Linked DNA regions of Homo sapiens: region 2 is linked to region 1. A link means that fine-mapping ties the variant in region 1 to the expression of a gene that starts in the linked region. Tissue or cell type: skeletal muscle. Region 1 holds a variant in brackets; the other region holds the start of a gene. All regions are shown on one strand. Distances are from middle to middle.

Region 1 (5,495 bases):
AAATCTTTATGCACAGCCTTGGTTATTTCCTTAGGATGACATTTTAGAAGAATTGCTGAGTTACAAAATGTACAAAATTCTAAAACTTTTAAAACATATTTCCAGATTTCCCTCCAGACAGTTGTATTGGTTTGCACTCATGATACCAGCCCACGAGCATGTGCTCGGGCTGAGGGTCTTGGCAGCGTGGGGCCTCTTACCCCCCTTTGCTTCCTAGTGCCCTGAAAGTCAAGCTTGAAAATATCAATTTGCTGCTGGGCACGGTGGCTCACACCTATAATCCCAGCACTTTGGGAGGCAAGGCGGGCAGATCACTTGTGGTCAGGAGTTTGAGACCAACCTGGCCAACATGGTGAAACCCTATCTCTACTAAAAATACAAAAAATTAGCCAGCTGTGGTGGTACATGTCCATAGTCCCAGCTACTTGGGAGGCTAAGTTGGGAGGATCCCTTGAACCTGGGAGGCAGAGGTTGCAGTGAGCCAAGATCGCATCACTGCACTCCAGCCTGGATGACAGAGCAAGACTGTCTCGAAAAAAGAAAATACCAGTTTTCAAATAAGCCAGTTCAGAATTTAAAACTGTTAGACCATGCATGAAGATAATTGGGAGATTTTTGATATCAGTATATTTTCAAAGATATCTAATTCCTCGAATCAGTTAAAACAGAGTTCTAGGAATTATATTTTAAAAGAAACGCCTGTTGGGCTTTTGGAGGGGATTTTTGTTTTGTCTTATTTTTACTTTCCAAATAATTAATAGAGACACTGTAATTATTTGTGTGGAATGCATTGATTTTACCAGCCACAGTAAACTTGATATTGTTAAGTGGATTGTGATGCTGTCTGTTCACATATCCTGCAGTAAGCAAGACGGGCACTTCATTGATGGTGTGTGTTCTCTGAGAGCCTGATAATCTGTTCACATATCCTGCAGTAAGCGAGACGGGCACTTTATTGATGGTGTGTGTTCTCTGTGAGCCTGATAATTTGGGGGGCATCAAGGTCATGGTGGGGACCTGAGGTACACTGTGCCTCCAGGAGGGAGTAGCCTGAGGGATGTGTGACCAAGAGTCTCTGAAGAATGCCGGAATTCTAAAGGGAGGAAGAAAATGGATAAAGAAAAACACAGAGGAAGTGGGCAAGAGAATGGAAAGAGCTTTGAGTTTGTGTTTTGTTTCCTGAAAACCTGGGTTCTGCTACTTATAAAACTGTGAGTCCCACCTTGGGCAAATTACTTACCTCTATTTGCATTTGTAAGAGATATGAATATACACCCCCTTGTATGGTCTGCCTGTCCCCTGTAGCCCTCCCAGGGGGCGCTGAAGCGCACCCAGGTCAATGCACTGAGAAGCAGCGGAGAGTGTGGTTAAGAGCAGGGAGTCTGGGGGGCACAGTGGTGTGGAATGCCAGCTCTGCCACCCACTGGCTGTGTGGCCCTGGCCAAGTTACTTAGCCTTTCTGATCTAGTTTCTTCCACTGTGAAATGGCAATAATAATAGTACCCACTGTTGTTATAATGAGTGTATTAGGATTCTCTAAAGAAACAGAGCCAATAGGAGATATATGTATATTTGGAGAGATTGATTTTAAGGAATGGCTCACACAATTGGGAAGGCTGGCAAGTCCAAAATTGCAAGGCAGGCTGATGAGATGAGGCCCTCCCTCACTGTGGAGAGTGATCTGCTTCACTCAAAGTCAACAGATTGGGCCGGGCACCATGGCTCATGCCTGTAATACCAGCACTTTGGGAGGCCAAGACAGGCAGATCACCTGAGGTCAAGAGTTTGAGACCAGCCTAGCCAATATGGTGAAACCCCATCTTTACTAAAAATACAAAAAATTAGCTGGGCGTGGTGGTGCATGCCTATAATCCCAGCTACGCCAGAGGCTGAGGCAGGAGAATCACTTAAACCCAGGATGTGGAGGTTGAGGTGGGCCAAGATAGCGTCCCCACACTCCAGCTTGGATGACAGAGTGAGACACCGTCTCAAAAAATAAATAAATAAATAAGAAAAAAAAAAGCAAAGTCAACTGGCTGAACAGTTTATCTCTTCTAAACAAAATACCTCCCCAGTCACATCTGGACATATTTAACCACATTTCTGGGGACTGTGGCCTAGCCATGTTGTCAGACAAAATTAGTCATCACAAAAGTAAATGACAGCTTGTCACTTTCACGAGCACAGCCGATCCTTTCCAGTCTCCTCCCCGGCCTCATCCTGAGCACATTGTGCACGTTGCAATGGTCCTATCAGCTTGAACGGCACGGTATGCGGGTGCCAGTTACTCCCTGTGCCCTCCCTGAGTCTGTGCGGGGACCTGTTACTCCCTGCACCCTCACCGAGTCTGTGCAGGTACCAGCCACTCCCTGCACCTTCACCAAGTCTGTGTGGGTACCAGTTACTCCCTATGCCCTCACCAAGTCTATTTATTCTGAATGCTTGTGATCAATAACAGTTTCTGGCATAATGCTAGGTACCCAACTAAAATGTCTGTTGAATGGTTGAATCACATGAGAATAATTTTAGGGTTTTTTGTTTTCTTTTGTTTTTAAGAGACAGGGTCTCCCTCTGTCACCCAGGCTAGAGTGCAATGGTGTGATCATAGCTCACTACAGTCTCTATCTCAAGAGCTGAAGCAATCCTCCCACCTCAGCCCCCTGAAGAACTGGGAGTACAAGGGTGGTCACCAGGCCTAGCTAATTTGGGGGGCTTTTTTGAGACGGAGTCTCACTCTGTCGCCCAAGCTGGCGTGCTGTGGCAAGATCTCAGCTCACTACAACCTCCGCCTCCCAGGTTCAAGTGATTCTAGTGCCTCAGCCTCCCAAGTAGCTGGGATTACAGGTGCCCACCACCACCCCAGGCTAATTTTTGTATTTTTTTAGTAAAGATGGGGTTTCACTATGTTGCCTAGGTGGTCTCGAACTCCTGAGCTCAAGTGATCCACCCACCTCAGCTTCCCACAGTCGTGGGATGACAGGCGTGAGCTACCATGTCTAGCCAATTTAGATATCTTTAAAAGGCAATTTAAGATACTCTGATATGCCTGTAATCCCAGCACTTTGGGAGGCCAAGGTGGGCAGATCACGAGGTTAGGAGATCAAGACCATCCTGGCTAACACGGTGAAACCTCGTCTCTACTAAAAATACAAAAAATTAGCCGGGTGTGGTGGCGGGCGCCTGTAGTCCCAGCTACTCAGGAGGCTGAGACAGGAGAATGGCGTAAGTAAACCCGGGAG[G/A]CAGAGCTTGCGGTGAGCTGCTCAGTCAATGTATACATTGACTGTATACATAGAATTTACCTTTATGTATATATGTATATGTACACGTTATAAAAGGATGATGTTTAAGCTCTTGTTTAGAGGGAGGACAGTTCTATTGGATTTTTTTTCTATCTTGGAGCCTCCATCCCTGCTGTTTATTTTTTGCTTCTCATTTTTGCCTTCTCTTTTTTAATGAGTATATTTGAATATGGAGGAATAAGGCTGGGGCTCCTAATATAAGGAAGCCTTCCCTAGGGATTCCTGTATGGGTTGTGTGCACTGTAACTATATGGCACAGGTGTATGAAAGCAGCATCCTTGCTTTCCTCGGTGGACTTTATATACAGTTCACAAATAACAAACTTAAAGAAGTTTTTGATGTCCATGGCAGATGGAACTATCTCTGCATCCTAATCTCCAGGCCCTGTGGATATTACCTTATACGGTCAAGGGACTTGGTGGAAGTGATGAAGAATCTGGAGATGGGGTGATTCTCATGGACTTTCTGGGTGGGCCCACGGCCATCACAAGGGCCCTTATGAGCAGGATGCAAGAGGAGCCAGAATCAGATTAGGAGACGGCAGTGTGAGGATGGGAGCGCAGGCCGGAGCCATGCACTTTGGAAATGCGAGAAGGGGACCCAAGCCAAGGAATACAGGCACCCACTGGAAGCCAAAATCAGCAAGCAAGGGATTCTCCCTTCTGAGCCTCCAGGAGAAACCGGCCCTGTGGACTCCTTGACTTGAGACCAGAGAAACTGGTTTTGGACCTCTGACCTCCAGGAGTATAAGAAAGTAAATCTGTGCTGTTTTAAGACCCTATTATTTGTGGTAATGTTTTTTATAGCAGCAATAGGAAATGAATACAATACAGAAATTGGTGAAAACAGAGGTGTGTGCATTGTTAGGAAGCCTCTGAAATATAAGTTAGCCCATTCTCTGTTTCCTCTCTGAAAAAATAACCATGACAGTACATTGGGAATCTTCATTGTGAAGTTGACCTATTTCCGCTTCCTTTTTTTTTTGAGACGGAGTCCTGCACTGTCAGCCAGACTGGCATGCAGTGGTGCAGTCACAGATCACTGCAGCCTCGACCTCCCAAGCTCAAGCAATCCTCCCACCTCAGCCCCCTGAGTAGCTGGGACGACAGGCACACACCACCACACCTGGCTAATTTGTTTTATTGTTTATTTTCCGTAGACACAAGGTCTCACCATGTTGCCCGGGCTGGTCTCAAATTCCTGGCCTCAAGTGATCCATCTCAGCCTCCCAAAGAGCTGGGATTATAGGCGTGAGCCAACGCGCCCGGCCGAAATGGTCTTTTTAACTTCACATTTACTATGAAAAATGTAACTGCCAAATTCCTGGTTGTAACAGATTGCATGTATGCAGAAAAAAGCCAACGTTTGTGGATAGTCATTCAAAAATAACCAAATGAATTAAAATGTTTTCTGAAAACTTTAAGATGGACATTTCAAAGAAACCATATGTTTTTTCACTTATTATACTCAATAGAAGCCTGCATATTTCATAAGACTTTTGTTGCTATTACATTAATTGTAATATTATCTAAGTAGAAATTAAAATATTTTAGTTAAATAAAAAATCTAAAGACGGTATTAGATCAGGAAAAAAATGGGGAATGGGCCAACACATCTTAAGCACATAAAACAATTTAATAATTAGCTGCTATTTATGATTACAGTAATCGATCATCTCAAATAGTTTAATACTTTAAATTATCTATTTTTGAGGTAAATCAAAATAACTGCCAATTCCAAATTGTTTAACAGCCAGAAATGGCACAGATAGCAACTTGTGAATCTATTAATAATTTTTCATCTAAATTGGGTTTGGCCAACTGTGGCCTGAAAGCTAAGAATCATTTTTACATTTTTAAATGATTAAAGAAAAAAATCAAATGGGGGAATGTTGATCAAGGGGTACAAAGTTTTAGTTCTTCAGGATGATTAAGCTCCAGAGACTTAATGCAAAGCCTGCTAACTGTTGTTAATAGGACTGTACTGTATACTTAAAATTTACTAAGAGGGTGGATTCAAAGTGTTCTCACCACCAAGAGAAAGAAGATGAAAAAACAATGGTAACTGTAAAGTGATGGATATGTTAATTAGCTTGATGTATATATCAAAACATCAGGTCAGACATCTTAAGTACATAAAATTTTTGTTTTTCAACTGTACGTCAATAAATATGGGGGAAATGAATCAAAAGGAGAA
Region 2 (5,495 bases), 130 kb before region 1:
TCCACCCTGAAACATTCTGGAACTCTATACTAAGATCACAAACACCAGTGTTTTGAGTGAACAATAAGACTTAGAAAAATGGCATAGAATGGGATTTTTTTTCTATTTTAAATATTTCCATCTGAAATAATTATAGACTCATAAAAAGTTACAAAAATAGTACAGAGAGGTCACATCTATCCTTCTCCCAGCTTCCCCCAATTGTAACATCTTATATAACTGTAGTACACTGTCAATGCCAGGAAATGAACATTGGCACCATAGTATTCACTAGATTTGCACTTCACTGGGATTAGAGCAGGTTCAAACAATTTGGACACTCCTGGAGGTAATTTGAATCATTTGCATAAAATTTATTCTCAGAAGTAACATGGTATAGGGAATTTACACTTATCAGATCTTTGTATTGTGGGCAAGTTGTTTAATGGCACCAAGCCTCGGTTTGTTCATCTGTGAAATGGAAACAATGATACCTACCAAATAAGTTGTTATGAGGAAATAGCTCCAGTTCAGTGAGTGCCATATATTAGGAACTTTGATGCCATATATTAGGCTTAGATGCAGGAATCAGAAGAAGGAGGGAATCCAGCAGTCCCTATTTCTTTCTGCCTTCCTGACTACCTGCCACCCTGTGCAGGTGCGTGATTTGCGCAAATTGCAGCATTGGTCCTAAGGGTGACTATAAAACCCATATGGGCTTCTGTACGTCCTAGTTTTTCTCATGTCTCACAGTCATTTGTCTTTTATAAGCCAACTGGGCAAGTGCCATCCTTCATTCTTTTTTTGGTACGGTGCCTGCCATGTCTAAATGCTCAATTAATGAAATTACAGTAATAACCCTCCTTCTGGCCTGGTGTTCTGGAAGCAGTGTGGGGTGGATGATGGGTCTGGAGTGGATTTTCCTAGGTCCCCAGTGGAAGTCGGAAGGTCACCGCAGTGCTAGTTGGAAGAGAAGGTGGAGAGGGACAAGTGGAGGTGAAGGTTGTGTGGAAGGCATACCGACAGGAGTGGGTTGAGAGAAAGAAAAGTTGAGGTTGGAATGGAGGGGGTCCCTAGGCTCAAGGAAAGTCTAGAGGTTTGGTTTTGTTTTGTGTGTGGTTTTTTTGGTGGTTTTATTTTTTGATTTTTTTTTTTTTTTTTTTTTGAGACGGGGTCTCAGTCTGTCATCCAGGCTGGAGTGCAGTGGCACGATCTTGGCTCACTGCAACCTCCCCACTCCCAGGTTCAAGCGATCCTCCCACCTCAGCCTCCTGAGTAGTTGGGACCACAGGCATGGGCCACTATGCCTGGTTAATTTTTTTGTATTTTTGGTAGAGACAGGGTTTCACCATGTTGGCCCAGCTGGTCTCTTAACTCCTGAACTCAGGCCATCCACCTACCTCAGCCTCCCAAAGTGTTGGGATTATAGGCATGAACCATCACACCCAGCCAAGTCTGGAGGTTTTTGTGAAGAGTTTCAATTTTGGGGTCAGACTGACTGTTTTATTAGAATTTTGGCTCTGCCACTGACCAGGTATGCACTTTTGGACAAATTCCTTAACCCTCTTTAGCCTCTTTTCTCATCTGTGAATGGGGGGGATAATGCTAACTACCTCTTAGATCATGTATTGTGAAGATGGACAAAGAGTCTCTGCTTGACCGAACTACAGTCAGGCTCCGGAACCTTCTTCTAGGCTCAGTTGTGCCCTTCCTTGTAAAATCTGCTTTCAGGAAGAACCCTGCTAAGTCAGTTTACCAAGAACCCTCCACCCTGGATATCTGATCAGCTTCCCCATCCGCCCTGTCCTGCCCAGCCCTGCCAGGGGATGTCTGACTTTCAAGAATCCCCCTTCCCCCTGATGTTTCCTCTTATAATTTTTCATTCCCTGCATCCCACCCTGGTCCTCGGTTATAAATCCCCACTTGTTCCTGCTGTATTCAGAGTTGAACCCAACCTTTCTCCCCGACTGCAGAATCCCATGGTAGGGCTTATACCTATTGCGATGGTTCCAAAGAGGGTCTTCTTTGCTGTGCTTTCACACGTGTCATGGAATAGTCTTTTTTCTTTAATAGGACAGAAAGTTTTAAAGCACCTAGGGCCTCAAAAGATGTGGATTTCCTCCCCACCCTAACCCCTAGAACCATCCAAGTACCATTCCTCCTGAAGCTGTCCACCCGCCAACACGTAGGTACTGCAGGCCTACTGCAGTCTATACTGGCTTGGGGAGTGTTTTTGCGGATCTTTAACACTGGGTGTGAAATCTACGTTGGGGGACACAACTACATTAGGATGGCACCTGGTGGGGGGGTCACACCCAGATACAATGTCTCCTGCGGCCCCTTGGGTGACCTGGTGTGATGAAAAGGGCTCCGCCCTGAAAGGCAGGTCTGGCTCTTCTGCGGGGCTGCGGGGATGGGGCGCGCCGGGGCAGTGTCGCCGGGGGTCGGGCTGGGGGCGCGACGCAGCGGCGCCGGGCGGGGGCGCCCTCGGCGCCGCAGCCGCCAGGTGGCACCACGGGCCCGGGGCCTGGGCGCGGGCAGCGGCGGCGGCGGCGGGCGAGGCAGGAAGGGGTTAAGGAGCTGGCGGAGCAGCAGCAGCCGCCGCCGCCGCCGCCGCCGCGGCTCTTCGGGGAAACCCGGCGCGGGGCGCGGGAGGGAGCGGCCGGGGCGGCGGGGCCGGGCCAATCGGGCGGCGGGCCCGGCGCGCGGAGCCAGCGACATGGAGGGGGGCGCGGCGCCCGGCCGCCCGTGACGCGCCGCCGCCCGGCCCGCTCTCGGCGAGCCCGAGCCGCCGCCGGCCCCGCGGCGGAGATGAGCAGGTCCGCGACGCTGCTGCTGTGCCTGCTGGGCTGCCACGTCTGGAAGGCGGTGACCAAGACGCTGCGGGAGCCCGGCGCCGGAGCCCAAGGTCAGTGGGCGGCGGCGGGGCCGGGGGCTTTGTGTCGCGCCGGGCCTGGCGCGGAGGCGGCGGCGGCGGCGGCGGCGGCGGGAGGGTCCCGGGCCGCGTGGTGGCGACGCAGCCCGAGCCGCATCGGGAGCCTCCGGGCCTGCAGCACCCGCAACGCGCTCCCGAGGGGGCGGCGCGGGCCGGCGACGCGGGGTGACCCGGGCGGAGGCTTCGGGGGCCGGGGATCGGGGGCTGGGTCGGGCGGGGGCGCGGGCAGCTCCAGCTGCTGTCGCCGCTGCGGCGGGGGCTCGTCTGGATGCGCCCGGGGGTCCCCTTTATGCCGCGCCTCGGACACGCGGCTCTGTCTCCCATGTCGCCGCGGACAGAGGGGCCGCCCAGGGCGCGCCGCCCGATCGCGCTCCCGGCTCCCCACGCCGGGCTCGGGTCTGGGAAGTCCCAGCTCCTGGGCTGCGCTGGGGCCTTTTGTTGTGGCGGGAGGGGGTGGCTGACGCCCCGGGGTGCCCCCTGTGTCCCGGGGCCCCGAGGTCCGCTGCCGCCACTAGCCACTAGCCTGCCGCAGTTTGGGAAAGTTTGGGGGGTTCTCTCCCCCTGCCTATCTGACGTCTCTTCCAGACCATAAGGGATTTGCTCAGCGGCCCATGAGTCTTCTCTGTAAGGGAAGAAAGAATTGAACTGGGAGGCCCTCATCGCTCACCAAAAAAAAAAAAAAAAAAAAGAAAAATCCTTTCCAGATCAGTTTGTCGCCAGCTCGTGCCTTTTGTCTCGTCTTTGGCCTCCACAAATCTGCTTTCCAGCCCTGGGAGTAACGTGGTCGCCTCTGAGAATGGCCACGAGCCTGTCTTTTGTTTTTAAAATCAGCGTTTTTTGAGGGGAGTCCCCCACACCCACCCTGAGGCTTGCTTGGCACATTTTTGTGGGGACAGCGTCGAGGACTCCTCTGTTGCTGGCGTTTTCAAAAGGGCCACTGAGGCCCGCAGATGAGCCTCTGCATTCACCCAGGGCACCGCTGCCTGGACTCTTGCCGGGGGCTCAGGTCTCTGCGAGGGAGCTCCCTGCAGCCCTGCAGAACCCCGGGATTCCGAGCCCGAGGCCTGTCCCCTCAGAAGGGTGTGTGTCCTGCAAAGTTGGCCCTGCAGGCCAAAGAAACGAGGAGTGCTGCATCCGAGGGTCTCCTTGCTGGAACCCCCTTTCCTCGGCTAACATGCTCAGGGTGCCTGGGAGCAGAGACGCCCGGGCTTCCACCACGATGTTGCTACGGGGAGGAAAGGCTCTGCCAACACTCTGTTGGGTTGAGTTTGTTGCCTACATGTTGAGTTGAAGGTTTTCATATTCTGGCACTTGCAGTATCATTTCCTGGTATATCTTAAATGCATTGCTGCTTCTATGGCCATGGTAGAATATGACCGTTATGAATTGTGTATAATTTTAGTAATGCATATCATGGAAGAGCGGACAGCTACAAAATACAAAAAGACCTATATGTCTCTTCGTGTAGGAAACGAATGTTTAGGACATTAGATCATCAGTGTTGCATTGCAGCTTCTTTTATTAATACCCTACTGCTTTTTTGAATCAGCTATTTTAGAGAATGATATTTGCACTTCAGCGAGGCCGTTAATTTTAAAGAGCAAGTTGAATTTTTCCTTTTGCACTTGAAATACCAATATATGGAAATATTAAATTCATGCACTTCTGAATTAGAGAAAGGAAGGCATGTCTTCAATATATATATATATATATATTCAATATATATATAACAGGTTTAGGTCTAAGACCACGTTTTACCCAGCTCTTGCTGCTAAAAATCCGCCTCTCAGGAATGGAATATTATGCGAAATGGGAGGGAAATGGTCAACATGAGAAGAGGTTTCTGCCATGGCTAGCAGTGGCTTAGTTTAGGGTATGGTTGGAGTGGGAGATCAAGTATCTTGGCATAGTTTACCCCTTGGATTACTTCCTTTGTTGTTATCTACTGTAAGGATGGCTTTTTAAAGCCTTGAGCCCAGGAACTCTTTCAGAAATCAGGTCTCACTACCTGGCATTTGGATTTTGAGCTAGCAGCATTTTTAAGGGAATGGACAATTTCTCCTTTGACATTAGAAGGTCAGTCCCAACTCACTGAGTTCTTCAAAGCATCTTAATGTTCACTTGCTGTAGTATGACGTAGTTTTAAAATTCATGTGTTCTCTGCTTTCCTGGATCATGTACACGATGAAGACAAATGCTGCATCTGATTTCACTTTGCATTTCCCACAGTGGGTTGTAGGTTGTTATGCATACAGTTGGTGCTCAGATGGTGCTGAGTAGGTAAGCATCAACCATAGCTAATACCTACACCATAACGCAACCTTTAGTGATCATCATTGGCTTGCATTTTAAGAAGAAAAGTTCAATGTTTACCTTCCCCAAAAGCTAATTTGTAAGAATCTTGCTTTTATGTAGAATCTGTTGTTTGAATCATTCTTTGAACAAGCATTGCACATACATATTATGCACCAACAGGATTTGGCAATTACTTTGGTAAAACTGCTTAGAGACCTCAAACAGACGGAAATCATATACTGTAGTAGTCCAACTAGATTGCTAGAACTAAATGACACCTTTTTGA

Evidence for each region. PIP is the estimated chance that this variant, and not a neighbour inherited with it, causes the effect.
Region 2: FAM171A1 starts here. The variant in region 1 is fine-mapped to the expression of FAM171A1 in skeletal muscle (FUSION, PIP 0.95).

What each region holds. Positions count from the first base shown.
Region 1 is chr10:15,241,579-15,247,073 of GRCh38, reverse strand. The region is part of intron 5 of FAM171A1 (family with sequence similarity 171 member A1); the gene reads left to right. Among named protein-coding and RNA genes, the nearest start is that of FAM171A1-AS1, 36 kb to the right of the region's middle. The variant G/A (reference allele first, on the strand shown) is at 3,240.
Region 2 is chr10:15,368,348-15,373,842 of GRCh38, reverse strand. It overlaps FAM171A1 (family with sequence similarity 171 member A1), which reads left to right and starts at 2,554. Exons shown (of 8, transcript NM_001010924.2): 1 at 2,554-2,887. The coding sequence starts at 2,791. RefSeq lists silencers at 2,508-2,557, 2,568-2,797.